Homo sapiens: one gene and its partner. The protein of the gene in region 1 interacts with the protein of each later gene in a pairwise test. Each region holds a gene or a part of one and is shown on either strand. Other genes may lie near its edges.

Evidence for each region.
Region 2: the proteins of SLF2 (region 1) and SFMBT2 interact in binary tests that used the Homo sapiens proteins (3 or more experiments, as listed by UniProt).

Annotation. Positions count from the first base shown.
Region 1 is NC_000010.11:100,908,136-100,924,957, forward strand, and holds the start of SLF2 (SMC5-SMC6 complex localization factor protein 2), read left to right. Parts: upstream 1-4,827; 5' UTR 4,828-4,975; coding exon 4,976-5,115; coding exon of another isoform or gene 5,116-5,167; exon of another isoform or gene 5,168-6,934; intron 6,935-7,863; coding exon 7,864-7,907; intron 7,908-8,434; coding exon 8,435-9,165; intron 9,166-10,248; coding exon 10,249-10,306; intron 10,307-15,839; coding exon 15,840-16,822. UniProt on the Homo sapiens protein: Plays a role in the DNA damage response (DDR) pathway by regulating postreplication repair of UV-damaged DNA and genomic stability maintenance.
Region 2 is NC_000010.11:7,162,749-7,178,779, reverse strand, and holds part of SFMBT2 (scm-like with four MBT domains protein 2), read left to right. Parts: intron 1-2,614; coding exon 2,615-2,790; intron 2,791-6,118; coding exon 6,119-6,285; intron 6,286-6,621; coding exon 6,622-6,885; intron 6,886-7,723; coding exon 7,724-7,852; intron 7,853-14,869; coding exon 14,870-15,010; 3' UTR 15,011-16,031.

The DNA of each region.
Region 1 (16,822 bases):
GGTGCCTCTTATTATCATGCCCATGCAGACACTAGACAATGATCATCATTTTCTAATTTGTAGGAATGTGGTGAAGATTAAATGAGTCAGTACTCATGAAGTGCTTAGAACAGTCTCTGGCCCATAATAAGGTTCAGTAAGCGTTGGCCATTGTCATTGCTGTTGTTAAGAAATATTTCTTTAATCCCAAGGCTTTATAAAAGTTAGGAAAATCGACCTGATTCACTCACTTCAGTTACCTACCTAGCCCCTGTAAGCATAAGTGCGAGACCACTCTTTGTACCACTTGAAGCCAGAAATCTAGAATTTTGTGTGAAATCTTTTGGTTTTTAAATGTTGCTCCGTGTCTTTAAACAACTCTTGGCCGGGTGCAGCAGCTCATGCCTGTAATCCCAGCACTTTGGGAAGGCGAGGATGGAGGATGGCTTGAGCCCAGGAATTCAAGATCAGCCTGGGCAATATAGCAAGACCCCGTCTCTACAAAATTTTTAAAATTAGCCAGACATGGCGGCATGTGCCTGTAGTCCCAGCTACTCGAGAGGCTAAGGTGGGAGAATCACCAGAGCCCGGGAGGTTGAGACTATAATGAGCCATGATTGCACCACTGCACTCCAGCCTTGGCTGTTCAGTGCCACCAATACACACAAGTATGAAATATGAACACAGATTACAGCAATGACTTTTAAATATTTCGACCATGGCCCAAAGCAGGGGCCACAGGAATACCTTTTACATCACTACCATATAAAATATATATACAATTGAAGAAGTAAAAAGTTGCAAAACAACACATGCCCATATGTTGTGTGCAGTGAACAGACATTCTCTATTCCATTGTCTTTTTCTTTTTTAAAAACATGGTCTGTAACCCATTACATCAATTTCAAAATCCTCTAAGGAGCTGCTAACCGGGTGTGAAAAACACCTAAATATGGGATAGAATCCCTAAAATCAATATTTCCCCAAGAGTTTCTTATATTTCAGATGTACGAGTAATATCTACGCCTATCAATGCCTACCACCACCACTGGTAAACAAGATAACTCTAGAAGAAACTTGGATATATTTATATTTTTAAACTAGTTATATATTTTTACTAGTATTAGTTTTTAGTTATCTTCCATTTTAGGAAATTGATACTGATTTTCCACTTACGGGAATGATTTAAAGTTTTCTCCTAAAATAAATGTACTTAAATTTAAAAAGCAATTTAAGGAAAAACATTAATAAACAGCATAGGAAATATTCAGACATGTTGAAAATCACAAATACGTGTCTCATGTATCTGAAGTGTGGGAAACTATCTGGCACCATTCTATCATGATAGAACAAGAAATGGACGTTCCTTCACATTAGATCTGCTTTTGCGCAGCTCTACTAATTACTCCCAGAACGTTAGGTTACATGACATGATATTAGTTTACATTTGGCTTTTCCCCAGCAGCCGCTTAAACCTGGGAGGTCCTTTTTCCAAGCACTTGGGCAGTTTCGAGTTTGGCATCCTTTTGCACAGTGATTTGTGTGGATCTTGAGATGCTGTGAGCTTGCCATCCCTTCTTGAGATCATCACGTGGTCTGTCTTTCTCTGTCAGGCTTTCAAGTTAATTATTTCCTGTTTTTCTGAGTCTGTTCCTTATCCCCCTTCCCAGGCCACCCTCTACCCTCACCTTCACCTCCCCCCAGCAGTTCTACAGAAAATCAGTCTTTGTCTCTTGGCCTGCCCTAGAACACCTTCCAACAAGAGCCTTGGAGTTAATTAAATGTGTGGCAATTTCAGAGCAAAAATTTATTACTGGGTACAATCAGAAATTACTTTTAGAGTTCTTTGCTTTTTGGTAACATTCTCTGTCACTTACTGACCTTTTGTTCTCAGTCCCTGCCTGCTTAAGGTACTGTGTGAACCAATCTGCCCAAGCTGTTTTCTCTCTGTGTGACTGCTTAAGATCTCTGGCATGAGTTATACTGTCACTCCTCTCAGGAACTCCCACGTTGGGCTTGATTTTCCCAGCAAACTTGATCTGTTGTTCATGTAACATTGTTTCTGCTGCTGTCCCATTCCTTCTCATCAAGGCCAGAGCCCCCTCCTCCTGTTGTCTTTAACAAGGCAGGGTGCTAAACTGAGCTGAGCTGCACCCCCACAGAAGCTTTGTGCAAAGAAGCCACTCCATTTCTTCAATCTTTGCATCCTCATCCCATCCCCATGCCCAGAAATCTTCCCAAACTAGCCTTTTATGGTCATCCAGCCTTAATTTCTCTTTTCTTCCAAATCCCAGCTAAGTTTTGTCTTAAGTCTCTAACTGGGTTTGGTTACATTGTTCAATGTCCTTTCCCCCCAGTAACCCCCCTGCCATCCTAGTTTTCTCTCCCCTATTAGCTCCTCCTAAGCACGCATCTGAACTCCTTAAATCTTTTACCTAGTGTAGTTTCCTGGTCATCTCCTTTTAGCCCACTACAAATTGAAGTGTAAAAAACCCTTACAATAAACATGTGTGCGTGCACACGCATGCATGGTATATACGTACACATTTAAACTAGGAGAAAGGATATAAACACAAAATAGACTGTCCAGTACTATTTGGGGGTGGGAGGTGGAGAAGAGCCCTAGGCCCTAGAAGTTCCCCTGGGGTTCTTATTAATATGTTGAACATATTTCACCCTGCAACCCAAATCTGTACCACTTTCGTACACAGCTTAAACAAAGAAGAGTCTTGATGCTTATTGAGGATTTAGATAACTACTTCCCGTTAAGAAGATATTTTTAAAATTGTGTTTTCATTATGACTCCATCTCCATTTATTGATCGAGGGATTTCTTGCCTCACTTAACTCCATAATCTGTTACTCAGATTAAGAAAATGAGAAAACTATTGTTTGGTAGTTTGAGTACAGGCTTTAAAGTGATACTTTGGAGGCTGGATGATTCAAGTACTATAATCCAAGAAAAGCAACTAAATGATCATGCAGAACGTGTTTTTATGCATTACTCTTTATCGATTAGGCATGCAAGGAAATGAATCGGATTAAATGTTTCGTAGATGTGCTCTGTTATAGTACAGAAACTTCCTAGTGTAAAAACATCCAACAGAAAGCACTAAGAGATAGGAAATAATACATGTAAAATGCAAATGTGTAAGTCATTCAACACATTTTGAGTATCATGTTTTTTTATGTAAAAAACAATGTTACGTATAGTAAATTCTCCGCTATTAGGAGCAGAAAAGTACCCTCTATTTTGGCACTTCCCTTCTTCCGCCACCATTAGCTAGTATACAGCTGTACATATGTGCTTTTGGGGTGAATGTGAAACCTGTATATTCACTGTTTACCTTCGACCCTCTACTTTGCCAGCTTTTTGTCCACTTTATTCCTTATTAATTCTTCCTCCCGGGGACTAAAGGGGAAGGGAAAAGGAGGTGAACTTGGAGTCAGTCAGGCATGCTTAGTGACCAGAACAGTTCAATTTCGTTTTTTCTAAATTTTAATTAATTAATTTATTTTTGAGACAGGGTCTTGCTATGTTGCCCAGGCTAGTCTCCAACTCCCGGGCTCAAGCTATCCACCTGCCTTGGCCTCCCAAACTGCTGGGATTATAGATGTGAGCAACTGTATCAGGCCAATAGTTCAATTTCTATACAATAAACTTGAAAGACCCGTCCAAATTATTTTATATCATTTAAGATTTTTTTCCATCCAACTGATTAAATAACTCTGTCAATTAAAGCTTGGACATCTTGAAATTGATATTTTGGTTGTTAACAGTTATTGCAACAGTATTTGACCTGTCTCTGGAAGATTTTGTAAAGAAGTAAAATTCGCTGTAGGAATCTATCTGGGGAAGAAAGGGAACTATAATTTGCTCTGTACCTGTTACATGAGAGAATCTGAACTGTGCAGTGTACACTGTTTTATCCTTTTATGGTTTACAATTACCCAGAAAAGTGAGTAAAATGCCCGTTTTACAGATGTGGAGGCTGAGGTTCAGAGATACTGACCAGTCTCTCGGTTTATAAGGAAAACCATGGCTAACAGCCTCCAGAGCACAAGCCCTTTACAAAGGAGGGTTGGAGATTGCAGGCAGCTTTTACTTATCTATGCTGCCCACGCTTAACATGGAAAACTGAAAGCTGACCTTGTGTTCCTTTAAAAAATCTCCAAGGAAGTCGGCTGCAGAGACTTCATGGTAACTCATGAGAAACAAAATGCTTTTGTGGATTAACAACTGTCTTTATTCCAATGGAGTTTTTTGGGGGTTTTTTCTTCTTCTTAAAGACAAAAAAATAATCTACCGCTGACACTCAACAAGAACCGTCGTAGAATGGACAAGTCTTCGGATCGCGCTGTGCAGATCCCTCAGCAAATTGTGACAGTATTATGGCACTTTGGCCTAAGCTGTTAAAGAGACGATGTAATGAACAGCTGCGGATTTCTGAGGCACAATTGTGTGACACAGGAAGCCCAAGTGTTGGCCATCCTCAACGAAGGCAGCTGCCGGGCTCCGGTTTGCTTCAGCAAACCCTCACCCCTCGCCTTCAACCAGGCGGGTGTCGTCAGCTGTCCGCCAGCTGCTGCCCGCGCCTTTCCGCCCCCGCGCGCCGGCCAAGGCCGAGGCGGCCGGGACCAGAGGCGCGCGCCCTCAGTGCATGTGACGGGGTGGGAGGGGGAGGTTTCTTCCTCCCCCGTCCCCAAGCCCCGCCTTCTCCAGAGAGGCTGCGGCTTCCTATTGCGCCACCACCGAAATGACCACCGTGCCAGCCAATCAAGACGTGATTCATGAAGTAAGACCCGCCCCTTACTGGTCCCCAGGTTCCTTCCCGCTCACGCCGGAGTCACTTCCGAAGAGAGAACCGCCATGAAGAGAGAAGGGGGTGCCGCCCACCTCTGCTCCGACAGCCTCCCGGAGTCCCAGCAGCAAGACGGCAACCACGCACCCAACTTCTCCAGCCACGGCTCATGCCGCCGTCGCCAGCGGCGCCGACATGACAAGGCGCTGCATGCCCGCTAGGCCAGGTTTCCCCTCATCCCCAGCCCCGGGGTCGTCGCCCCCGCGCTGCCATCTGAGACCCGGTAGTACCGCCCATGCTGCAGCGGGAAAGAGAACAGAGAGTCCTGGGGACAGGTACCGTGCAGAGGGCTTGAGAAGGGGCCGGGTCGCGGGGGCAAGGGTATGAGGGGAGGGCTGCAGACCGCCGCTCTTCCAGTTCCCGCCATCCTCCGCGAGCTCAGGCGTTGGCATTTCGGGGCCTGGCAAATCCCCGCCCCGCCTCCGCGCAGGGGCTACTGGGAGTTGGAGTTTGCTTCTCTGTAGTTGGGCAGCTGCTCTTGGTCTAGTGACCACCAGCCTGGACAGCTACGGAGAACCCGCCTTAGGTAGAAAGAAAGTGATTTTTTTCCTTTGCAAGAGTTTGACCCGGGACCCTAACTGCTTAATGCATATTTAGATCGTTTTCTGTACGTTGTCAGTTCTACTGATCCTAGTGGTTTAGTAATATAAACCTTTTCTATGTTGTGGGTGAAATTATGTAACCTGTGATGAGGGAATCCCTTCCACGAATTACTTTGTAGTCCAGCGTGCACGCTAGTTCATACTTAAAAGAACTTGCAGATTTGGAATGTGACGTGTTTTCTCTTTCAGTAACTTCACGCCTCTCCAAGAGGCTAATTTTTTTGTAAAGATTTTGTGGGAGCTATGTAATGAGATGGGGAGTTTCATCTAATGACATCCTCTGACAATAAAACATGTTTAAATTCCCTACGAACTTGGTACTGTCTTTTATTTTAAGTTAAATTGTATTAAGTTTTAACAATATTCATGTTACTAATACTGTGGTACAGGCCCACAATCCCTTATCTTAACTCTGAAAGCCAGAAAGCTATGAAAACCAAAACGTTTTCAGTAAGTTTGGCACCACATCTTACTGGGCAGCCAGATCTGACTAAAACTAATGTAAGGCTGTTTGTGGTCTTTATCCCATTAAGTGTGAATATTCATGTTTTGCTGGAGAAATGTCAGTGGATTTGATTACAGGTTGCAGCACCAGACCCCACTGGGGACTTTCCATAATACATCCAAGTTATCCCCTTCCTAAAATCTGATAAATTCAGAATTCTAAAACACATTTGGCCCCAGAAGGTTCAGATAAGGGTTTGTGAAACTGTTATAATTGTGTGTGTGTGTGTGTTTTTTTTTAAGCCAGTTGTTAAATAAGCAGTGGACATTTTGTGTGCATATGAACTTAGAGAACCTACCTCTTGAAAGTTACATTCATGGTTATTTTACAGGTTTCTTGTATGTTTTACCCAAAATCATTTTTTCTCTTTCTGGTGTATTAATCAAAAAGGAGTCTGAGGTCCAATATTTTAGGGAAGAGATACAGTGTTACATTTAGTAAAATGCATTTAGAATTATCTTGTGTGCAACAAATGAGCTGCTTCTGGGTCCCTTCCCATCTCTCCTCAATCAATAACAAGATCAATAACAAGGTATCATCCTTCTTCCCTTTGCAGAACCTCCAACATTTACTCTGGTGGAGTTAATTTGCCTAGTATAATTTATGTAAACAAATGCATATATTCTTCCATAGCCCGTCACTCATATTCATCTCATAAGCACTTAGCTTTTATACCAGCATCTCAAACAAGCGTGATGGACTTGGTAAACCAGTAAAGATGTGCATTGCTCTTCTAATGTGACCAGTAAAGTGTACAAGAAGCTTAACCTTCAAGAAACTTGGATTGTTGGAATTTTCACTGAGCATTCCAACCTCATAGTGGATGAATGTTTAGGGAAATCAATAGTCTATAGCTTATTCTCTTTCAGTAAAATGATACATTTTAGCAAAATTTACCAGAAAGTTAATTTTTTGTTCAGCATATCATAACATCCCCTTTTTTGCAGCTGACAACTCTACAGTGAACAAATCAGAATACGAATTCTGGTAATGGATTCCTATTTCACTTTAGCATTATTGCCAATGTCAGAACTTGATTAGTTAAGCCAGATAATGAAATCCAGTCTTTACGGTACAGAAATTCTTAAAAATTAATTTGGTTTTTGTTATTCTTGTTAACTTTCTTCCTTTTCTCCTTGTGTTTTTCCCAAGCAATGTGTTATTTTTGTAACTATCTTAAGGATTCTTTGATAAAAAATTAAGAATTTGAAACTAGTTGTGACAACTCATTCTAATTTCTGCTGTTACTTAGATTAACATCTTAATGTATAAAGAGGGTAGCATAAGTTTGGTATTTTTCTTTTCTGCCCTTGTCCAGCAAACTCCTCTTCAACTGATTCCCTAGATCAGCCAAATCACCTGTATTGCCATTCTACCATCTACTGTTCTACTCTTGTTATGAGAGTCTGTTCAAGTTTTACTCCATTTTTATAATCCCCATTATTCATTTGGCATACATCTATTGAGTTTTTTTTTAGCTTGTTATTCTAAATTTTAAAACGCAGCTGTGCTTAGATACCAAGTAATTATTTTGTATCAATGTCTGCAGAGAACAAGTAGGTTCATATGCTGATACCCAAGATGTTGCATTCTACCATGTAGCCGTGAACATTTCAGTCTTAAGAAGCACTCTGTACTAATTCCTTGGGTCTACACACCAGTCTGACCTATTTAAGTACTATAAATAATATAAACCTCAGTTGTATTTTTATAAATGAACTCCTATAGGAAGTGATACGTTATATTTTCTGTTTTTTTAATGAACAGTTTAGCAAAGCATTGTTACCATTGTCAGAACTTTATTAAACCAAATAGTGAAATCCAGCCTTTATTTTATAAATCTTTCTCCATTTAATCTGAGTTATGAAGGTTTTAATATTTGCTTATATGATGCCATATTATGCTTTTATTTTCAGGAAGCAGTCAATTATAGATTTCTTCAAACCAGCTTCAAAACAAGGTATGTACACTGTTGATGCATTTTTTGTGGGCTATTTTGGGGGTGAGGAGAGAGACAGATTCAACTTTAAAACCTACTCTAAACTGTTTTAGTAAACGTAGTGTTCAAAATTGAAAATAAAATGAAGATGCAGTATTTTGTTTTACAAGGATAAACTGAAGTTCTAAATATGAAAGTCTTTTTGCTGTTATGTTTTCTTACATTTAAAATATTATTCTAGTAAAAAATTTAATGTTCATAATACATACTATTTTGATTCTCTAATACAGTAATTTATAGAGCCATAGGGAGGTTATATGATGTACCAAAAGAGAGCTTTATGAAACTAAGGCTTTTAACAAATAAATCATCTCTTAATTTCTCCTATACCCCCCAATAAAGTGTGTATCATTATCCAAGTTGTTGGTTTGAAAATTTTTGTGGTAACATTAGTATAGTTTAATTTATATTTTAAACATTAATAATTTAGATAAATATTAAATATTTTACTAACATGCAATTTGTATGTGTTTTAATTGGCTATTTAGACAGACACATGTTGGATTCACCACAAAAATCAAACATCAAATATGGAGGAAGTAGATTGTCTATCACTGGGACAGAGCAGTTTGAAAGGAAACTATCCTCACCAAAAGAATCTAAACCCAAAAGGGTGCCACCAGAAAAGAGCCCTATTATAGAAGCTTTCATGAAAGGTGTTAAAGAGCACCATGAAGATCATGGTATACATGAGTCACGTCGGCCTTGTCTGTCACTAGCCTCCAAATATTTAGCCAAAGGAACAAATATCTATGTTCCTTCTTCATATCACTTGCCAAAGGAGATGAAGTCACTAAAGAAAAAACATCGATCCCCAGAGAGAAGGAAGTCACTATTCATTCATGAAAATAATGAGAAGAATGATAGAGATCGAGGCAAAACCAATGCAGACTCCAAAAAGCAGACCACAGTGGCAGAAGCTGACATCTTCAATAACAGCTCCAGAAGCCTTAGCAGCAGGAGCAGCCTGTCCAGGCACCACCCGGAAGAAAGCCCACTGGGAGCTAAATTCCAGTTGTCACTAGCTTCTTACTGCAGAGAACGAGAACTAAAGAGGTTGAGAAAGGAGCAAATGGAGCAGAGAATCAACTCCGAGAATTCTTTCTCAGAAGCAAGCAGTCTTTCCTTAAAATCTAGTATAGAAAGAAAATATAAACCAAGGCAGGAACAAAGGAAACAGAATGACATCATACCTGGAAAAAATAATCTGTCAAATGTGGTATGTGTAAGAATTATTGAATTAGCATTGCTACTGCTATGTCATATTTAGAATACTAAATTTAAAAATATTTAAGAGTTGTTACATCACATTGACGTCTTTCCTGAAGGAAATACTTATGCACAGTTTGTGTAGAAGCTGGTTTCATTACATTTCCTCCAGTTGCCCTTCATCGAACTCAGTAAAGCAGTGTTTCTTATCCTTAGTTTTTTCAGACTGGGAACAAAGATCTTTTTTAGTCAGAAAAGTAAGCATTCTTTTTTTTTAAGGCAAGTATAGTCTTACTTATTTATGTGTAGACAGTCTTGCTCTGTTGCTCATGCTGGAGTGCTATGGCGTGATCATGTCTCATTGCAGTCTCAAACTCCTGGGCTCAAATGATGCTCTCACCTCAGCTTCCCAAGTAGTCGAGACTCCAGGTACCTGCCACCATATTTGACTAATTTTTGTATTTTTTTGTAGAGACAGGTCTCCCTATACTGCCCAGGCTGGCCTTGAACCCCTGGCCTCAAGCGATCCTCCTGCTTCCTGTACTTTGGGAGGCCTAGGTGGAAGGATTGCTTGAGCTCAGGAGTTTGAGACCAGCCAGAGCCACATATCGAGACCTTGGCTCTACTACAAATAAATAAATAAATAAATAACCAGTCATGGTGGCATGTGCCTGTTCTCCTAGCTACTTAGGAGGCTAAGGTGGGAGGCTCGCTTGAGCCCAGGAGATCAAGGTTGCAGTGAGTTTGATCACACCATTGCACTCCAGCCTGGGTGACAGAGCGAGACCTTGTCTCAAAAATACAGTGTTCTAATATAATATTCTTGAATTATTGATATAAACGTAAATCAGCATTTTGAAAACTGACTTCATTTTTATGATATTTTTACATGTTTATGATACAAATGCCCTTAATTTTTATGACAAAAACCTTAAGATCTTTAAATATTTTATTATAGACATTAGGATTTACCTCCAAATATGGGTGCTTGCCTTATTCAATCTAGAAATCTGTGTTTAAATGTTAGGAAGAATGCCTTCACATTCTTTACTGTCCCCAACACTTAATTAATTTTATCTCATTGTGCTCATAGGAAAATGGACATCTCTCAAGAAAAAGATCCTCTTCTGATTCATGGGAACCTACTTCAGGTAGAATCAAAATTAAATTTATGGATTTCTAAATAAATTTCCATTTTAATGGCACTGCTTTTTAAAATAAATTTGTTTAAATATGCAGTTCCCTTCTTGGGGATGAATTAAGTGTCTCATATTAATTAAGAGTTTGGTAAGATCATATTAAAAAAGACTAGTCCCTGAATCTAGTACTTATAATTTGGGTTTGTTTTTGAGACAGGGTCTTACTCTGTCACCCAGGCTGGGATGCAGTGGCATGATCACGACTCAACTGCAAGCCTTGACCTCCTGGCCTCGAATGATTCTCCCACCTCAGCTTCCTGAGTAGCTGGGACTACAGATGTGGGCAACTATGCCTGGTTAATTTCTTGTATTTTTGTAGAGACGAGGTTTCGCCACGTTGCCCAGGCTGGTCTCAAACTCCTGAGCTCATGAGCCACCACACCTGACCTAGTGCATATAATTTGTAATCTGTCTTGAATCTCTGCCCTCTTCAGGAGTTCCTAACAGTATGTTTCTCATACTGGTATTCAGTGTTTCCTTCTGAATCCTTGGCTACATCAGGAAACATAATCTTTTTTTTTTTTTTTTTTTTTTTTTTTTTGAGACAGAGTCTCGCTCTGTCGCCCAGGCTGGAGTGCAGTGGTGTAATTTGGCTCATTGCAAGCTCCGCCTCCCGGGTTCACACCATTCTCCTGCCTCAGCCTCCCAAATATCTGGGACTACAGGCGCCCACCACCATGCCCGACTAATTTTTTGTATTTTTAGTGGAGACGGGGTTTCACCACGTTAGCCAGGATGGTCTCGATCTCCTGACCTCGTGATCTGCCCACCTCGGCCTCCCAAAGTGCTGGGATTACAGGCATGAGCCACTGCACCGGGCCCCCAGGAAACATAATCTTATTATCTTGGAATTGTAGACTGAGTTGTTGGTATTATGTTGAAGATGCTTTGTATAGGGTTGAGACTGTTACCATGATAAAAAGCAGTGTTCTCTAATATTTCAAATCCAAGGATCCCTTTTTAATATTAAATTTCAAGGATATCTACATGACATTAGTTTGTACTTTTAGCATTTATTGATTGAAAAAAATATAAAATAACAAATCTGTTAATTCAGTACATTTTATCTTTTTTTAAAACTAGAAAATAGAAGATTAAAAAGGCAAACACTGCAGAAGTTTGCAACAAGAAATGAAAGGTCTCCACAACTAACAACAGTTAATAGTCTAGTGTATCCGATTTTTTTCCTGATGTGACTATACATTTTGAAAAACAAATTCCCACATTCAGTAAGATACATTGGACACGATAATAATAGCTGGCTTTCATTGAGTACTTACTGTGTGCTATGCCATTTTATGTGCTTCTAATTCGTTTGAACCTCATAACTTTATATGATAGTGGTTTACTTTTAGAGATGGAAAAGCCAAAGTACAGAGAGTCAGTTCTAATTCCTCCTTCAGGTTTCATCTACTTCATTTTATTTATATTTTAGAGGTGCATTGCATTTTGACCAAGAACTCTCAACTGGTAAAATCAATCTTCAGCCAAGGCTGAAACCATATTTTACCATTATAGAAGGAACTTCTAGGATACAGGAATAAATCTAAAGTTTTGTGTGTTTTTTGTTTATTTAATTTTTATAATGTTGCTGATTTTATGACCAAATTTTAGTGAATTTTGACATTATTGTAGAAGAACAGGAATTTCTCAGCCAGGAGATTGCTTCTGCACTCACTGTATTGCACATTTTTAATACTAAATACATGATCACCTTGCACCAAAGTTAATGGAAGAACAAAATATTATTTTATATAAGGGGCTGCTGCTGGTGGTGTGGCTACCACATTATTCCTTTTCTTTTTTCTCTGACTTAAGATTTGAAAAAATCTTTTCATTTCCTGGATTTGCAAATTTCATTCATGGTGGCTAAAGTAGTTTCATTTATATAATCCCACCTAGCAAAGTTTTTGAGTACTGCTTGGAAAAGATGCTTTCTACATATTTTCAGAGGCTGACTTATGATGGTTGCCGTCACTTATATTTTTATTACCAATATTTTTGCATGTGTTTCATAATCACTAATAATTATAGCATTATACTCTTAATAAATATACATTTATACTTCAATTGACTAACATCAACAGAATTTCAACATGTAAAGGACAAGGGGATATTTCAATCTAGATAGCATGAAGAATGCTTATTGTGTCTGATAGCAAAATTATTAAAAATCTAAGCCAGGCGCAGTGGTTCATGCCTGTAATCCCAGCACTTTGGGAGGCCAAGGCAGATGGATCACCTGAGGTCAGGAGTTCGAGACCAGCCTGGCCAACATGGTGAGACCTCGTCTCTACTAAAATTACAAAAATTAGCTGGGCATGGTGCCCAAGCCTGTAATCCCAGCTACTCAGGAGGCCAAGGCAGGAAAATTGCTTGAACCTGGAAGGTGGAGGTTGCAGTGAGCTGAGATGGTGCCACTGCACTCCAGCCTGGGTGTCAGAGCAGGACTCAATCTCGAAAAAAATAAATAAATAAAAATAAAAATCCAAATGATATGTCTTGTTCATCTTGTTAATACACTTAATCAATTGTCATGGTAATGTACATAATCACGCAATCATTAATCACATACAAGTTCAGGGATTTCAGAAGTAATGTTAGACTAGGCATTTAGCCCTTTGGTCTTCTAGAGCCCTGTCTTTTGGCTGAATTGTGAGGGGAAATTTAATCCATTGCTAGTACATTTCGTAACTGATTAATAACCAATCACCTATTAATGGCCTTTGGATTTTTCCTTTTTCTTGAGATGGAGTCTCACTGTCTCCTAGGCTGGAGTGCAGTGGTGAGATTGTAGCTCACTTGCAGCACTGAACTCCTGGGCTGAAGCAATCCTCCTGCCTCAGCCTCCCAAAGTGCTGGGATTACGGGCGTGAGCCACCATGCCCAGCCTCCTTTTTTTCTTTTTACAAACTCAATCTCTCTCTTATATGAATATTTTATGTATTAGTATATTTGAAATATTTGAAAAACTGTAAAACAAATATTCTCTACAGGCTGACAAAGGATACAAAAAGAATTATGAACATTTTGCAATTAATCACCTGACCTGAAGAGCTTGCTAAAGGGGATCCTACCTGCAGTACCAATTCACTTTTCTCTAATTCTAGATGATGAAACCCCTTAATAAGCTGACTTATCCTAAACATCTTCCACAAACAGTGTTTGTCTCCTCCTGGATCAACCCTGAATAATGCCTGAGCAAAGCAGGAATTTCTCCTCATTTCTAGCTATATTTAAATTATCTGACTTCTCTAGAAAAATGGAACAAAACTCAAACTGGCAGCTCTGTAGCTCATTTTTTGTAATCCCATACTTAAAAGTAAGATAATGAGCCAAATCTTCTCTTTTGTTTAGTCATTTAATTTCTCATCCTGTTACCCCTGTCCTTTTTGTAAGACATTTAACCCCAGAAAACTGAATAGGATGGAATGATTTCCTCAGGTAATGGGAGATATCTGTAAAAGAGCAGAGATAAGGGCATTTGTTAATTAGTTAATTTAATTTTTATAAATTGAATTTTTCAGATTATATATTGATCAAGCTATCCAAATAATAATTGCCTCTCAAGTTTGGTTTTGGCGGGTTTATTTTATTTTATTTACTCATTTTGATTCAAGGTCTTACTCTGGTGCCCAGGCTGGAGTGCAATGGCACAATTACAGCTCACTGTAGCCTCACGGGGCTCAAGCAGTCCTCCCACCTGAGCCTCCAAGTAGGTGGGACTACAGGCACATGCCACTGCACCCGGCTAATTTTTGTATTTTTTGTAGAGACTATTTCACCATGTTGCCTAGGCTGGTCTCAAACTCCTGAGCCCAAGTGATCCTCCCAAAGTGCTGGGATTACAGGCATGAGCCACTAGACATGGCCAAAAGATAAGAAATTTTCTAACTAGAGAAGGGATTGACGGGGTTGTACTTTTCGCAGAGGCAGGGTTTCACCTGAGCTCACGAACTCCCACCTTGGCCTCCCAAAGTTGTGGTATTACAGGCATGAGCCACTGTGCCCAGCCATTTTAGGTTTTTAAAGCAACTCTTGGGGAATGGAGACATCTGTCCATGTGCAGAAAATTTGATTTAGGGAAATCTGGTTTGGGGAATACTGATTGCACAAATAGTGAATTTTTTGTGTTTTTTTTTGTTGTTGTTTTGTTTTTTTGAGTTGAAGTCTTGCTTTGGTACCTAGGCTGGTCTTGAACTCCTGGGCTCAAGTTATCTTCCCACCTCAGCCTCCTGAGTAGCTGGGACTATATAGGCACACACCACTGCACCAGGTTAAAGTGAATTTTTTTTTTTTTTTTTGAAACGGAGTCTTGCTCTGTTGCCCAGACTGGCGTGCAGTGGTGCCGTCTTGGCTCAGTGCAACCACCACCTCCCAGGTTCAAGCGATTCTCCTGTCTTGGCCTCCCAAGTAGCTGGGAGTACAGGCACGCACCACCATGCCTGGCTAATTTTTGTATTTTCAGTAGAGACAGGGTTTCACCATGTTGGCCAGGCTGGTCTCAAACTCCTGACCTCAAGTGATCTGCCCACTCCGGCCTCCCAAAATGCTGGGATTACAGGTGTGACCCACCGCACTCAGCCCACAATATGAATTTTTAAAAACTGGTTCATTCAAATGTATGTGGTTATTAAAGTACTTCTGGATGGGGCTATAATAAATATAGCTTATATTAGTTTCCTAGGGCTGCCATAACAAAGTGCCAAAACCAGGGTGGCTTAAAACAACAGGAATTATTGTTTCACAGTTCTGGAAGCTAGAAGTTTGAAATCAGGATATCAATAGGGCCGTAATGTCTCTGGCAACTCTAGGGGAGAATACTTCCTTACCTCGTCTAGCTTCTGGTGTTTGCCTGCAATCTTTGGCATTTCTTGACTTACAGCTGCATCACTCCAGTCACATAGCATCTTTTCCTTGTGTATTTTCACCTTGTATTCCCTCTGTGCATGTCTGTCTTTGTCTCCAAAGACAAAGACACCTTTTGTAAGTACACCAGTCATACTGCATTGGGACACAGCGTGATTTTTTTTTTTTTAATGAGAAATTAACATTTATCTGCCTTCAAGTGTTTATCCTATACGTGTTTTAAGGTACTATACATTTAAATGTAGAAGTGTTACATTTCTGCAACCAGGTAGTCCTAGGTCTAAAAGAATTTCCAGAAGTACCTATGGCATCCTTAACTTGGTACAAATATGCAGTTGTTTGTTTTAGGGAGTGGCATCTTTAATTCTGTTAAGGTGGTAAACTTTTCATAGCTTTGGAATGAAAATGAGCATTTGTCATTAGCTTTAAATTTCTTGGACACCAGTATTTATCCAGTTGATAAGTAACTCTTTTTCTGCATTCCATATATGGTGACTAATCTCAGCCTTAATACTTAGAATTTTAAACCTTTCATTAGGGTGTTCTAGACACTGAATAAACTTTACTAAAGTTGGAAAGTATATTTTTCACTAATCTAACAAAAATTAAATTTTAGCAGGCTCTAAGCAGAATAAATTCCCTGAAAAAAGAAAAAGGAACTCTGTGGACTCAGATCTGAAAAGCACAAGAGAATCTATGATACCAAAAGCAAGAGAGTCCTTCCTTGAGAAGCGTCCTGATGGACCACATCAGAAAGAAAAATTTATAAAACATATTGCACTGAAGACACCTGGTGATGTGTTGCGCTTAGAAGATATATCCAAGGAACCGAGTGATGAAACTGATGGCTCTTCTGCAGGCTTGGCACCTTCAAATTCTGGCAATTCTGGCCACCATTCTACCAGGAATAGTGACCAAATCCAAGTGGCAGGTACCAAGGAGACTAAGATGCAGAAACCCCACTTACCTTTATCTCAGGAAAAGTCTGCAATTAAAAAAGCTAGCAACCTTCAGAAAAATAAAACCGCTAGCTCCACGACAAAGGAGAAGGAGACAAAACTACCTTTACTTTCCCGTGTTCCAAGTGCTGGTTCCTCTCTAGTACCATTAAATGCTAAAAATTGTGCTCTTCCAGTTTCTAAAAAAGATAAAGAGCGTTCCTCATCTAAAGAATGTTCTGGGCATTCTACAGAATCCACCAAACACAAGGAACACAAAGCAAAGACTAATAAGGCCGATTCTAATGTATCTTCAGGGAAAATTTCTGGGGGACCTTTGCGCTCAGAATATGGCACTCCTACAAAGTCTCCCCCTGCTGCTTTGGAAGTTGTGCCATGTATCCCAAGCCCTGCAGCACCTTCAGATAAAGCCCCTTCAGAAGGAGAGAGTTCAGGAAATTCCAATGCAGGTAGCAGTGCACTGAAAAGAAAACTAAGGGGTGATTTTGATAGTGATGAAGAAAGTTTAGGTTACAACCTAGACAGTGATGAGGAAGAGGAAACATTAAAGTCACTGGAAGAAATAATGGCTTTGAACTTCAATCAGACTCCTGCAGCTACAGGAAAGCCTCCTGCTCTTTCCAAGGGGCTTAGATCTCAG
Region 2 (16,031 bases), about 94 Mb from region 1:
ATAAGGGCTGTAGTGCCTAATTTTAAAACAAGAACCCATCGAATCTGCTTTTTGTAGCTCTGGTTGCCAGTTTTACACTGGTGAATTCATTACCTGCGGTTTTTCTTGGGGCAGGAGAAAGTTTTTTTCTTAAAAGTGATGAGCAACAAGTGACAATATCTAGGTTCCAGAAGCATGTCTCACTCTAAATTCTTTGTTGTGTGGGTGGGTGTGGGGAGGGATGCGAGGAGCTTAATTTTTATTCTTCACTAAATAGTTACGTTTAAGGAAAGCAGTATTGCACTTGATATTTATATATGATGGCAAGACAGTGCCATCTCTTCAAGCAATGTTTGTTGACGTTTTTGGATTCCCATATATAAAATCAGTTCCTTGTGGATAACTATAAAAGGCGTTTGGATTTCCAGAACTCTCGTTTTCCTAGTGCGTTGAAAAGGTTTTGGGGAAAACTTCCATACCCTTCATCTAGATTGGTGTTTCCTCTAAGATCAGAGACAAGTGCTTAAGGAGGACCTCAGAGAAACCTTAGAAGATGTGAACCGAGAAGGAAAGGTACAAGCAGGCAGCAGCCATGGTCAGGAGAAGCTGCTGTGTGGGTGGTGGGGAGGTGCAGGCAGGCAGTCCGGGGGTCCCCATTCTTGTCACCCCCCACCACCGGAGGAATGAGCCTTGTCTCAGTCAGCCCAGGCTGTGCAGCAAAGAGCCACAGGCCACATGGCTTTTGCAACGATGTTTATTCTCTCAGTGCTCTGGAGGCCTAAAGTCCAAGATGAAGGTGCCAGGGTTGGTTTCTCCTTAAGCTTCTCTTTTTGGCTTGTGGATGGCCACCTTCTCCCTCTGCCCTCACATGGTCTAGTCTCTGTGCATGTACACCCCTGGTGGCTTTTCAACTTCTTCTTCTTCTTCTTCTTTTTTTTTTTAAGAGACAGAGCCCCACTGTGTCGCCCAGGCTGGAGTACAGTGGTACAATCATAGCTTATTGCAGCCTTGACCGCCTGTGCTCAAGGAATCCTCCTGCCTCAGCCTTCTCAGCCTCCCCAGTAGTGCCCCACCGTGCCCATAGTTTTTAAATTTTTTGTAGAGATGGGGGTCTCGCTATGCTGCTCAGTCTGGTCTTAAACCTCTGGGCTCTAGCAGTCCTCCTGCCTCGGCCTCCCAAAGAGCTGAGATGACAAGGATGAACCTCCACACTCAAACTTTTCATCTTCTTACAAGGCCGCCACTCCTATGGGATTAGGTCCCCACCCTTATAACCTCGTTTAATTTAATTACCTCATTGAAAGCCCCATCTTCAATTACAGTCCTATCGGGGGTTATGGCTTCAACCTATGAATTTAGGAGGGACATGGTTCAATCCATATAATAAGAATGAAGGTCTCCTATGTGAGGCCCCTCAGTTAGATTTACCGCTTTTTGCGGGGGGCGGGGGGAGATTTAACTGGAGAAATGCCTTTTATTTTTTCCTAATACACAAATAGACTGTAGCTTTCCAAAGACCTCAGTCTAATAAGAAATAGAGATGCATATGAAGTACTGTTGATTCCAGCGTGCATTCTCCTTGCAGTATGATTTCATCCACTATCTATCACTCAATCAAGATTTGAGTCTGTGGGGAATTGCGGTGAAGGTGTGCATGTTCAGAAAGGATTCGATTTACTGCTTCGGAGAAAGCAACCGAAGCCATGGAGGGGGTTGCTGGGGGGACTGGAGAGCAGGTGGAAGCAAGTTTTAGTTCCTGGAGCAATCTTTCACCATCCCAACCTAGAGGAGAGGAGTGGCCAGTTACCCTCATGGGCAGAGTATGGCAAGCGGCATTACCATTTCACGTTGCTCCCTTTACACTTGAGAGATACAGCAGCCTTTTCCTTTAACTGCCACTCATCCACCGGAGACCCCTTACGATTCTGTTTACACTGAAGCCACTTGCTGCCAGTGTCTGCAAGGCTGGGGGTCTTCACTCGGTTTCCAGGTCCCAATCATACAGTCACTCTGCATTTTTAATGGTAGCTTTTTTCTTTCTTTTTTTCCCCTTATAAAATCCATTGTGTTTCTGTCCATTTAAATGTGACCTTGCTTACCTATCACCATTCTGCACAGATGCCATTTATGAATAATGGAAATCGTCCCCATTTCAACAATATGATACACAGTCTTGACAAAGATATCCTTTCAGTGTTCTGAATTTGCATGGTTTTCAAGGCAGAATCCTGATCCCATATGCACTCACATTTTTCAAAAATGAAATATGATAGCAACAGGAAAATACCCATTCGATTTCACTAACCTCATTTCGAGAGCCATGCCCATCAGGTATGTATCCCGCACCGCTCATCTTTGGTATGAAGTTGTATATAGCAAAATGAAGGTGTGCTACATGTGGGGGTGTTTATGGAAGTGGATTCTGGTTTAGCACTGTTACGACACATTTGTTGCACACTAGTGAGCACTTCTTATAAATATCTCTGTGAGAAATAACAGAAGCAACATGGGAAACTGCACGCGATATGCTTTGTCATTGGAAAATGAAGTTGCTGCCTTCGGAATGTGTGGTACAGAATAGGCCTGAATCATAATCTGGTCTTGCCCTCGCTTTTCTTCCCCACCTATTTTCTAGATACAGAGGCAAAACATACAGGGCTGTGGTCAAAATCGTACGGACATCTGACCAAGTCGCAAATTTCTGCCGCCGAGTCTGTGCCAAGCTAGAGTGCTGTCCAAATTTGTTTAGTCCTGTGCTGATATCTGAAAACTGCCCAGAGAACTGCTCCATTCATACCAAAACCAAATACAGTAAGTACAAATAATGAAAAAAGAAATGCATGAGCCCAGAGACCTAAACTGCACTCTAAGGTATTTGGTTTTTGTTTCATTTGCTTTTTTCTTTTTGAACCTTTTGACTAGTCTTCCATAGGAATTGCTATGGAAGGATTTTTAAGGATTTGCTGTAGCAGATACATGTGTTTTTAGCCTGACATACGGAGGGGATGGGATGATTTAAAACAGGATGAATTTTCATTGGTAGGCCTTGGAAAAGAAGAAGAGGAACTGTGTGTACTGTCATGAGTTTCAGTGGATTGATTGATTCTACAGCTCAATGGATGGCAGGAGAGCACAGTAAAATTGATCACAGTAACAGTAACCCAGATGACTCTTTCAGTCCTTACTCTGGGATAGTGTAATGATGCTTTCATTGCCCTTCTTGATACGGGGGCCACATCCTTGTCATAATCGGCTTCTCATGTTTAGACGCCTTCCTCAGCACCCTCACTGAAGAGAGCCATGGAGGACTCAGAAGCCACCATCACTTTCTTTTCTGCCAGTTGGCTTTGCCTCTCTCCCAGGACACAGGGTGCAGGACTCAGAGCTGTCCCCACTCTCCTACCTTCAGCTCTTGCCTCTTCCATCCCCAGTCCCATTCGAGGATGTCTGGCCTTGGGCAACCGCTTCCCCTGAGCCCTGCCCTTCTTTCTTTCTGATGACCTTCTCCATCCATAGTAGCCACTCCCAGACACCTCCACCTCCTGTGCCTGAGTCCTGTTCTCTCCCTCTGACCCACAGTTCTGAGTTTCCTGCGTCTCCCCTCAGTTCTCTCTAATGCAAGGGGGAGTGACCTGGAAGTTAGCTCTGCCAGCCACGTTCCAGCCAGCTGGGATGTGACAAGGGCTTGGCCATGTGGCCAGTGCTCTGTGAGCCACAGTCACTTGTGACGTTTGTCAACATGGGTGCTGGAACCAGGAATCTGAATGTACTGGAAACGCTGTGCAGAGTGTGACTTTCTTTGTATTTTATTATCTCTCAGTGTGTTTCTACACACACACAACACACACACACACACAGAGTCCCCTTGCCACTCTGCCTTCTGATGGAGGCCAGCTGTGCCCTCACTGATCACACAGACCTCCCCTCATTCTGTGCACAGGGCCTCTCAGGTAGGGCCCGCAGGTGTGTTGGCCCAGCAGGTCACCTGGTTCCGGAAGAGCTTGTTTCTCCATCACTGCACCTTTTTCCAGGGGAGGGCTTCACTGGGAAACAGCAGCTCCTGAGTAAGAAAGGCCTAACCGAGGGCTCGCCTTTGCCGTGTACGGTGAATGCTTACCTGCCAGGTGGGCTTCTGTGTTCTTCCAGGACACTGGGAATGGCAGGGAAGGAGCAGGGTCCCACACCTCCCATTCAGCATTGCCGAAATGAACTCAGAGATGTCTCCGGATCTCATATAATAAAACTCTTAAGTCCCAAGATCCTTTGGGTTAATTTATAATGAATGTTACTAAAGGCTGAACAGAGGCTCCAGTGGGAGGAGGACAGAATGATATTTTGGGGGAGTCAAACACTGGAAAAGCAGGGGTCACCCAGTCTCGTTCTAAGGCTCCAAACACATACTGGCCTTTGGCTGCATTCCCTAAAACCAGTTCTCATCCCCAGCCACTGGCTTCTAAGAAGCCAGCCTGCCCTGGCCCTGTCATGCACGCTTGGGGTTTGGGAGGGGACAGAGGCTTGCTCATTTGCCCCGTACCTGGAGATGGCCACAGAGCAATGCTCGCCCACGGCAGTTTATTCCTGCTCACTGAGTAACACGGTCCTTATAGAACTGGACACGGGACATTGTTCCAAGCTCTCCTGCCAGCTGCTCCTTTTGAGAGATTGATGAGAACAGGCCGGGGCTCCCGGAGCAGGTGTGCCTCCTGGGAGTTACAGGGCTGCTGCTGTGCGGCTTCCCGACAGTTTTTCCAAATGCCATGCTGTGATCAAACGCAGGGGAGGAGGTGGGACATAGAGGGTCTTAGGCCTGAAGGAAACCTATGCTTGTTAGTCCTGATGGTCTCATTTTGTAAGTAAGGAAATTGGGGTGCAGAAAGGATAGGTGACTTACCTGTAGGACAAAGCCCACGACTCAGTACTGTGAGAATGCACTAAAATCATGCTCCCTGCAACGGGGCTGCTGCAAACCAGGGGTGGTGCATTTGCCATTTTGCTTTGGCCCACCCCATTCGTAGATAAAGGTTCCTTGGCTGCATTCAGTTATTTTGTGGCTCATGGGCATCACATAGTGGGACGGTTGAACCTTTTATTAATGAGTAGGCGTCTGGGTCGTAATTGAATGCTGGATCCTTAGTGGTGGTTTTCATTAGCTGATGATACATTTTGTTTATAAAAAACATTAATCACTACTAAAGTTCAATAAATAATTTTTGAATTAAGATGTACACCTGTGTCTCTGCTGTAGAATTCAGAAGCAATGTGAGTCCCAGCAAATGAGAAGGAAATAAAGTATACAATGATGTAATAGAGAAGGAACTCTGAGAAGAGGAAAAGTGCTTGGTGAATTTGGCCCACGTGTTCAGGATCATAGCTTATCTTGGTCGGACCAAGAGCTGGGGGAGTCCCTCATGCCAGGACCACGCCAGCAGATGTTCACCCAGTGCTTGCTGACTGACCAGTCGCTCAAGATTCAGACTTGGGAGCAGGTGTCAGAGCACTCCGGTGGATGTCATTGCCACCACTGTATGCAGTGTCTGGGGTCCAGACAGGGATAAACTCCCGTGGGAACTGTGGACACCTTTGTCTCTTTCACCTTCTGCAGAAGTCAGCTCTGGCTTACAACAACATACCACAGACCCTGAGCTTTCACTGCGCACACTTACCTCCCACAGTCCTGGAAGCTGGAAGTCCAAGATCAGGGTGTCAGCAGCTTTGGTTTCTGATGAGATCCTTCCTGGGCCTCAGGCAGCCACCTGCACCCTGTGTCCTCATGGGGCCTCTCCTTTGGGTCTTGGGTCCTTGGTGTCTCTCCTGGACACTCTTAGGACCTCATTAATGTCCTATTGGATTAGGGCCCCACCCTTGTACACTCACTTTGGGGGTTCGGGACATCCAGATACACTCACTTTGGGGGTTTGGGCTTCAACACTGGGGACGGGCCAAGTTCAGCCCGAACACCTTCCAGACCTGAAGCTTTGGAGCAGTGCTTCTCCTGTGGGTCTGTTTTCTCAGAATGACTTCGTAAGGCACAAATGAACTATCAGATGAAAGAATCGTTTCCCTTCTTTCTCTCTCCTCTCTCTGTTCATGTCTGTGTGTGTGTATAGCCTTCAAAAGTTTCTCATCTTCCTTCCTACAGCCTATTACTATGGAAAGAGAAAGAAGATCTCCAAGCCCCCCATCGGGGAAAGCAACCCCGACAGCGGACACCCCAAACCCGCCAGGCGGAGGAAGCGACGGAAATCCATTTTCGTGCAGAAGAAACGGAGGTCTTCTGCCGTGGACTTCACCGCGGGCTCGGGGGAGGTATGTTCTGCCCGGGGCACCTGCCAGCCTGTAGCTCTGTCATCTGGCCCTGGCCGGCAAGTGTGGCTGCTTCACAGCAGAGGTGGCCCTGGAGATTGTGGCAAGATGGTCAGAAACACTGAAGAAGAGCCCCCTCCTCCTTACTTGCTGAAAACAAATGTAGTGTGTCCAGCTGCTTTGGCTGGGAAGGGCCTCGTAGGGCCCACGGGTGGGACCACTGGCTCCATTTCCGAGGGTTTGCTAGGTGGTCTGCACTGGGCCCAGGGTCTGACCGCGGGGCCACCGCTACAGGCCCCCGGGCCACCAGCCCCTTAAATGCCTTTTCCTCCTTCCCAGGAAAGTGAAGAGGAGGACGCTGACGCCATGGACGATGACACCGCCAGTGAGGAGACCGGCTCCGAGCTCCGGGATGACCAGACGGACACCTCGTCGGCGGAGGTGCCCTCGGCCCGGCCCCGGAGGGCCGTCACCCTGCGGAGCGGCTCAGAGCCCGTGCGCCGGCCACCCCCAGAGAGGACACGAAGGGGCCGCGGGGCGCCGGCTGCCTCCTCAGCAGAGGAAGGGGAGAAGTGCCCGCCGACCAAGCCCGAGGGGACAGAGGTGATGCCCGGGCGTGGGGACAGAGGGCTTCCCGCTGGGTCTGAAGAAGCACACCTGTTACACTTCAGGGCCACGATGTGGGGAAACCTGTTTAAAATACCTCCAACAGCAGCAGCTGCTCTAGCTAGTTCCCAAGTCAGGAACAAAGGCTGGCACTTCACCTCTGGGTGGAGGGGCCTTTCGGCATCAGAATGGAGTGCCCAGGGTGGAGACAGCGCCTCTTTCCTGGACGGCTTTAGTGCCACCTGGGTTCTTGTCAGGAGGAGGGCACAGTCCTCAGTTTCCTTTGAAGTCTGGGTTTCCAGAAATTCCTTCCCCGCATCTCCCCTGACTGCGCTGTGTCTTGCTCCCACGTCCCCTCTATAGGACACCTCTGTGATGTTTTAAAATATTTAATCAGTGTTTCAGGTCTCCCCTAGCCCCATGGGTGGTGTGAGATCAGCAGAAAGGGCCACTGGCACCACCATTACAGAAACACTGGGGGACACTGTCTCGTGTCTGCTTGGACGTGCCCCTTGTATTTCTCCTCTTTTCTCTAATCAGAGATGCTTCGTTCATAAGCAGGCCCAAGGTTTCCTGAACTAGGGATGCAAGAGCGACTGTCACTGTGCCTGCCTTCTTCCATCTGAAGGCACATGAGTCATTGCAGGGGGCATCATCACTGAGCCAAGAACTTTCTCAGGGACTGAGAGTGTGTGCAGCTTTTTCAGGTGCCCAGTGAGGGAGCAAAGGGAGGCAGTGGCTTCCGGCCAGGAACGGCCGAGGCCTGGAGAGTGCTGGAGAGGACCCAGCCAGCTGACTGTGCCGCAGCTGAGCTCCTCCTGCCCTTTCTCTGCAGGACACGAAACAGGAGGAGGAGGAGAGACTGGTTCTGGAGAGCAACCCGTTGGAGTGGACGGTCACCGACGTGGTGAGGTTCATTAAGCTGACAGACTGTGCCCCCTTGGCCAAGATATTTCAGGAGCAGGTACGGTGGTTGCCGCGTGTCGATTGTTTGATGTGCTGAGACTCTGCATCTGAAATGAACCTCGTGTCCTAGCCGGCTTCCTCGTGACACCTGCGAGGGGGTTCTTCGGCGCTGCTCGGCAGGTGTGCGAGACCCTTCTCCCTCCAAGGCCCCTGCTGAGAGCTGCCTGGCAGGGACGAGAGACAGAGCCTCATTCCTGCTCCTCTCAGGCCCCACCAGTGCCATGGTGGGGGGCGGAGGGGTGACTCTTCCAGGCTCTAGTGACACCACCCAGCAGGGGTGGGAGGTGCCTGTTGCTGCCAGGTGAGGGGTGCGAGTCCACGCTCCCCCTGCCATCTCCACCGACTCTACAGTGGGGGCTCTTTACCACCAGGCAGGGGTGAGAGTCCCAGTTCCCTGGCTGGCCCTTTCAGATGCCAGGTCAGTGGTGGGATGGGGTGCCCAGTTGCCACCTGGCCAGGCCGGAAGTCAGGATAGCACACTCTGCCTTGGCTGCTCTCAGTGGGGTCCGTCCAGCCCTCCCTGTGATGTTCAGCTGCAGAAGAGATGCTGCTGTCTCACGGTTTTTTGTCTTGCTGGGCCACCCCTTGGCCAGGCCTTTGTCTGGAGAGAACTGGTTTTGGTTGAGCCTCCTGTCAGTGCCTTTTGGCAAATCTGGGTTGCAGCTTCTTCAGCTCCAAGTCTCAGGGGCATGAAGCTCACACACAAACAGCAACCACAACAACCAGAGAGCTCAGCACTGTGCTGTCAGCTGGGGGCCCAGGCCCCTAGCCGGTCTGCCCTCCTTTCTCCACCTTCCAGAGTCTTCTGTTTGTGAATTTGTATATAATGCCCATGGATCTTACTTAGGCCTAGTGGGAGAAGGAGGGAACAGTGTATCCACCTGGCCTGCCCAGAGCAGAAGCCCGCTGGCTGGTGTGTCGTACTGAATGCTGCTTTCGTCATTGTTTTCTTACCTTCCTCACTTCTTTCTGCATAAAATATTTTTAAGACCATGGTATGGTGATGGACAAATGCAATAACAGTCGATATAATTTCTACCTTAAAGGAGCCTATAGTCCAGCAGATGAAATGAGTATAGTTAGCTAAAACACAAGATCATATGATGCTGTGTCCTAAGGAAGAAGAGAGGGTTTTTATTTACATTATCCCTTAAATTAATACGGAAACAAGTTGCCACTCTGCACACACACCACCTTGCATCCTGCCTCACTGGCCTTGCAGAAAATGCCAGGCTCTTGCTGTACTCTGTGCTTAATTTGTTGAAGTTTCTTGCGTTGTCCTGGTGTAAATATCTGTGTTCAAAGACCTCATGTTAAAAAAAAAGTACTGTTTTTCATATAATGTTAAAGATAGGTTTATTCAGTCTCTTTTTAGATCATATAAATCAGTAGTCTAGAAAGAGGATATTTCCAGCATTAAATCAGGAAACATAAAAGGTCTGTGACTTCCTGTGTACCCAGAAAATTTCCCAGCTTTTCTCCCAAGTTCATGCAGCAATGAACTGGAAAAAGCAAATTAAAATGGTCTCCAGTGCCACCCAAAGAGAGTAGTTCTTTCCCCTGTGTCCCGAGAAGTCCAAGAGATGAAGTAGTTCATCCTATTGACAACCACTAGAACCTTCTGCAGACACCCACTAAGTTCATGCTGAAAGAATGATTAGGCCGGCCATGGCGGCTTATGCCTGTAATCCTAACACTTTGGGAGGCCGAGACAGGCAGATCACTTGAGGTCAGGAGTTCGAGACCAGCCTGGCCAACGTGGCAAAACCCTGTCTCTACTGAAGAAAAAAAAAAAATTAGCTGGGCGTGGTGGTGGGTGCCTGTAATCCCAGCTACTTGGGAGGCTGAGGCAAGAGAATTGCTTGAACCTGGGAGGGAGAGGTAGCAGTGAGCCGAGATCGTGTCACTGCACTCCAGCCTGGGCAACAGAGTAAGACTCCATCTCAAAAACAAGCAAAAAGAAAGAAAGAAAAAAGAATGATTGGAGGCAGAGGGAGTCACCTCCTCACCTTCTCACACTGGCCACCCTTCCTGTCTGGACAACTCTGAAAAGCAACCAGGGAGAGACTTCCTTAGACCTAAAGAACCTGGGTGATGAGCTTGTCCCTTTAAATAACACACAAACAGGAAAGAAAGACAATTGTAAGAAATACAAGGGCTTAGGTGATCGGGGGCTTATTGATAAGCCACATCTCCATTTTGAAAACAAAATTAAAGCAATAGGTTGAAATGCTGTGTAAAGCGCTGCCCAGCACAGCACGTTGCCTGTCTGGCATTTATTGACAGTGGTGCTGCGGCGAGATAAGCGTTGTATTCAAATACGTGACAAGCGCTGGTCATGCATGTTTGGTTGCGCTGATCACGCAGGTTTGGTTGCACTGATGCGTATCTGTCAGTCCCTGTGTGCATTCAACATACACCGATTCAGTCCCTGCGAGGTGCCTTCTGATAGCTAAAGATACAAGGTGTGGCATTCTGTATTACTCTAATGTTTTGGTTTTATTTTTAGGCTCAAATGCTTAGTTTTCACAATAAAAAAAAATTTAGTTAGGCCTGAATGAAGAGCAGATTTCTCATTTCTAGATCCCAGGTTAGGTATGAGGGCTTATACCTTGAAACGTCAATAGCTCCTGTGTCTGTCTACACTGTGTACAAGTTCTCAGTAATAAGCAAGAAAGTGAAACAAAGCTGGTATGGGGAAAAGCCTAAAGTATTGAGTCTTCCTTTCTTATATTCCTAAGCCCAGTTGATAACACCAGAGAAAAGTTTCATGCCTTCCCTAAGCTAAGCCTTCTAGGAAATGGAACACTGCCGACACTGTCCCCCTTGTAGAATCAAGTTGCTCTTTTTTTTTTTTGAGATGGAGTTTTACTCTTGTAACCCAGGCTAGAGTGCAATGGCGCGATCTCGGCTCACTGCAACCTCCGCCTCCCGGGTTCAAGCGATTCTCCTGCCTCAGCCTCCTGAGTAGCTGGAATTACAGGCACCCGCCACCATGCCTGGCTAATTTTTGTACTAGACAGAGTTCTGCCCTATTGCTCTTCTAATATTAGTAAAAGCCTTGCCTTTCATCCCTACTTGTTTCTCTTACGAGAGAGAAAAATAGATAGACTTTCATTGATCATCATCTCATTCCTGTGTAATTTCACATTTCACATTAGGCAAGTTCACCTGTTGGAATAAAAAGCCATTGCCCACTGGGCTGTCTGAAGTACATGGGCACTTGAGTCCTTTTCTGTCCCATCAGACCTTTAATTACTAATTTTTACTAATTGGTTCATCGTCATTTAGCCCAAATACTCCAGCTCTGAGTTGGTGAGGCCTCCGGTAGGTCACCGCAGGCATTGTCTGAGATTACAGGTGAGCTAGAAGGAACCCAGAGACTTTCTTCACTGGCATGCGAATGAGATCACAGTGCACAGCATGGTCATCGCTATGTGCACGCAGGCCCTGAACGTTATAAATGCAGAGATTATTATAATTTGCAAAAATTCTGAACTCCCCATGACCAGCGTCTGTGCCTTTTATTTCTGAAATGTTATGGCAACCGCTTAAAAAATCTATACTCCATAATCTCATGCTGCAAACCTGTACATTACACAGTAAAAATCCACTCATCTATAACTAAGCACATACAACACTCTAAATAAAATTTTACCTATGTATTCAGCTTTCATCAGTCAGAGACAGCGCAATAAGCAGACTGCTCAAATGCTCAACTGACCTTAATGAAAAAATTTCAGGATAGTTTATAGGTTTAGTCCAGATTAAGCTGTCCTTTCTCTACTTCTCTAGATCTCAATACCTCCATTAGGAACTACCAGATCCTCACCCGAGTGCTCTATCAAAATCGATTTAATTTTGCCCTGTGCTAAGCATGTCGTATATCTTATCATATTTCATTTCTTTACAATTAGTCCATTGATGGTAGTTCTGTGTTTAACATTAAAAGTGATCTGCCGGCAGCTCTCAGTTCTATAGGAACATGTTTATAAAAATCAAACCACCTGTGAGGTATGCTGTTACCTAAATAATCCTTGAAAGAAAAAATAGTCTTCCAGATAAAGTGGCTTTCTGGGCTCGTCATGATTTTACCTTTGGTGTCTCCCCAGTTTCCTGGAATTCTATGTTCCAGGGAACTAGCTGTGTTCTTTCAGTCCCTCTTGGCCTTAATAATTCTTACTGGTCCCTGAAGTCTCAGTTCGAAGCCCTTTCAGCACCCCTATAAGACTGGCTTGGTTGCCTGTCCTGTTTGAGCCCTTAGCTCTGCATCCATATGTTAATATCCCTGTATCCTAATAGTCTGTTTACTTGTCTGCCACCCTCCAGATTCATGGGATGTCCAGAGAGGGAACCTTTCCTTTGTTCACTGTGACATTCCCCAGAGGCCAGCCAAGTGCCTGCCACTTAGTAGATGCTCAATAAATATTGGCAAGTAAATACATGAGTGTGTGCATCTGCACTGAAATGTGGTACATGCATTGGCCACCTTCACTGAAATTTTCTGTAAAGAAAGAGTTACACGAATATTTTCGTGCTGATAGTCAGTGGTGATTGAATCACCATCATGCCCAAGTACAGATGTTAAAGACTGAGCTACAGTTTTCCCTTCAAAGTTTAATGTCAGAAAACTACAGTTCTCATGCCAACACTTTCTCTAACTAGCTATGTGATCATAGTTAGATTGGCTAGCTTTTCTGGGCATTAATTTTCACCAGGAAAGTAAACTTCCTGGGAAAGTAAAATAAGTTCTATTTCTATTCTTTCCTGTTCTATGGATGTCATTGAACATAATGGTTAAGCCAACTGTCCATGGTTTAATGACATCCACAGAACAGAACAGAATAGAACATCAGCCCTCTGCCTACTTAAAATGTGTTTTTATGAGGCCCATGGTACCTGGAAGACTTTGAGTCCCTACACCCATGCCCTCTTGGTGTAATTTGATGTATTACATGTGGATTTGGCTCTGAAAGTGGAATTGGCCTACAGGCCCCAGGCCAGAGGTCCCCTTGGTTTCTTCGCGACCTAGAGCCAAACACTTATTTCACAGTACTCCCAAATCCCCCCAGCTGCAATCAGCCTTTTCTGTAGCATCTGAAAAGAAAGTAAAATAACATGTATGAGCACTATAGAGCAAGGGAAAAATGATATAAACATAGCATGAAAATATAGTGACAGTTTTCTACAGTTTGTCTCCTGCTTTCAGTGTGTATACAAGACAGATCTGTTTACTTTGTGATTTGATAAGGTCACCTTTGGTCTTGGTTGAACGTGGCTTCGAGTTGCTTACATCATAGCTAGTGCTCATCTGTAATTTAAAAATAAAAAATGACACTCACATTGATACTTTTAAAGTTAATGTTGCATTTTTATTGCTACAGTACTTATTAGGGAATATTGTTGCTTTTGAATCTGATCTGAAGATAAATTATTCCTGCTCTTAACATTAGTCTTTTGAATCTGATCAGATGATGAATCTATGCTTGCTTAGAAGATTAGTCTGCTCAAGGCTACCATTTATACACACTTTGCCTTTTTGCTTTAGATATTTTCAAGACAGCTAAATAAACCGTTAGTTTAAGAAAATAAGCTGCCTGTGCGAAAGTCACTGACAGGTGTTGTCGGAGACGTATGATCTTGTGCTTTTGCTTGGCTATTAATGTCCTTGTGGCTTATGGCAGCCCTGGGTATAATTCTTCTGCAAGTGGCAGAAATTCCAGTATGTAGAGCTCACTTAATGCTCTCACGGTACCACTGATCATCATTGCCTGGGGCCTGCAATCTCTCAGACCCCTCAGTGACTCCCTCTGGACGATTGAGATCATCTTGGTAAATAGGAGGGAGGATTGCGGTTAAAGTCAGCAGTCCGGTCAAATGACATCTATGTGAATGAACCAGATTACTATAGGAAGCAAGCTGCTGAAGAGACAGAGATGTCCAGTGGAAGGGTCTTAGAGCTTTGGAGTGGGTCTTTGTATGCTTCCTCCTGCAGCAAATTCAACTGAACATTCATTGAATGAATGTCTTCATGCCCTGTGTGTAGGTAGAGAAAGGCTGAGGCAGGACACAGTGGGGCAACAGATCTGTGTACGAGCGACACCTCGCTCTGGGGAGTGTGTGTCTGTAAATGGTGTGTGTGTGTGTGTGTGTGTGTGTGTGTGTGTGTGTGTGTGTGTTTCCCTTTATGGAAACCTGTGCTGTCGTTGGCATATCTGTCTTGAGCATCTTCTCACCCATCCTAATGGTGAAATGCCAGACCTTGGCAGGGAGCTGAGGGAGCCTTGTCTTTTAGTAGAGATTCCTTTGCTTAGTGCTCAGATGAAGTCTCAGCATCACTTAGGGAGGACCTGGCCCTGCCTGGGGTGGAGAGTGACTTGCCCTCCCAGCAAGGGGCGATAAGCTTGGGAAGCAATTCCCGCAGCAACCCACCTGTTCCAGCTCTTTCTACCCACCAGGGTAGGTATGTGAGTTTCAGAGTAGCCAGAGTGCCCTTAGCCAAAAGCTCTTGTATTTGTATTGTTGTTTTTTGTTGTTGTTTAGAGAGTCTCCTGCTGTGTTGCCCAGGCTGGAGGGCAGTGGTATGATCACAGCTCACTGCAACCTCAAACTCCTGGGTTCAGGTGATCCTCCCACCTCAGCCTCTGAGTAGCTGGCATCACAGGTTTGCACCACCATGCCCAGCTAATTTTTAAATTTTTTGTAGAGACCGTATCTCACCGTGTTACCCAGACTTGTCTCAAACTCCTGGTCTCAAGCGATCCTCCAGCCTCAGCCTTCCAAAGTGCTGGAATTATAGGCGTGAGCCACTGTGCCCGGCTACAAAAAGATTTTAGTAACACAAAGATTAGACAGTCATCAAGCCGGGCTGGTATCTCTACCAACAATCCCCTGAATTGAATGAAACAAGAGCATCCTGTTGTCATGTTTGGCCCCGGACTGGAGCCTGCTGTGACGCATCTGTGTACCCCAGTGCACACTGCCCCTTCTCTAACCTGCCTTTCTTTTCCTGCAGGATATTGACGGCCAAGCACTCCTGCTTCTGACCCTTCCGACGGTGCAGGAGTGCATGGAGCTGAAGCTGGGGCCTGCCATCAAGTTATGCCACCAGATCGAGAGAGTCAAAGTGGCTTTCTACGCCCAGTACGCCAACTGAGTCTGCCCTCGGGAGGTGGCCCATTATTGCTGGGATGCGGTGTTGGTAAAGGTTTCCAGGACTGAAACTTTGATTTTCCGGGATATGTTAAATGGTACAGCCACTAAGTATCACCAGAAAACCAGAAGCCCAGGATCTTCTGCCTCCGCCAGCCTGTGAGCTGTTTCCATGTTTTCAAAGCACAGCAGCAGTCGCTTCTGGGGAGTGCCAGTTAAAGTCATGCATCAGACCCTGCCAGACGTGGGCCTGCTTCTTGGCTCACCCACGTTTTGCCTTTCTCCTGCCCCAAATCAGGCAGCTCCCTTGGAGCAGGGTTTCCTCAGATGAGGACTGCATTCTTTGAAAACAAAGAATGTCGCCAAGGAAGAAACCTCACGCCATGCTGTAGTGTTTCCTGTAATCACACGAGCACATTTATATATGCAGTTTCCCATGGATAGGCGTGTGACCCTGGTTGAGTGGCACTTGCGGTTTCATCTTGGTGGCAACTCCTTTGCAATGCAGCTGGCAGCGACATCCTTATAAAAACATGTGCTAAAGCTCTGTCCTCTGTTAGAGGTGCCTTTTAGGAATACGGGGAGTGAAGGAAGGCCGGCAGGCATCTCCATGCAACTAGATGGTTTGTTTGTTTGTTTGTTTGTTTGTTGTTCATTTTGTTGTGTTTTTTGAGACAGGGTCTTGCTCTGTCGCCCAGGTTGTAATGCAGTGGCGCAATCTCAGCTCACTGCAACCTCTCTCTCCCGGGTTCAAGTGATTCTCCTGCCTCAGCCTCCCAAGTAGCTGGGATTACAGGCACCCACCACCATGCCTGGCTAATTTTTGTATTTTTGGTAGAGACAGGGTTTCACCATGTTGGTCAGGCTAGTCTTGAACTCCCAACCTCAAGTGATCTGCCCGCCTCGGCCTCCCAACGTGCTGGGATTACAGGTGTGAGCCACTACGCCCCGGCCCAACTGGATGGTTTTTGATTGAAGCCTAGAACATCTGTAGAGACAAACTCTACCCAGTCTTTTCTAGACCC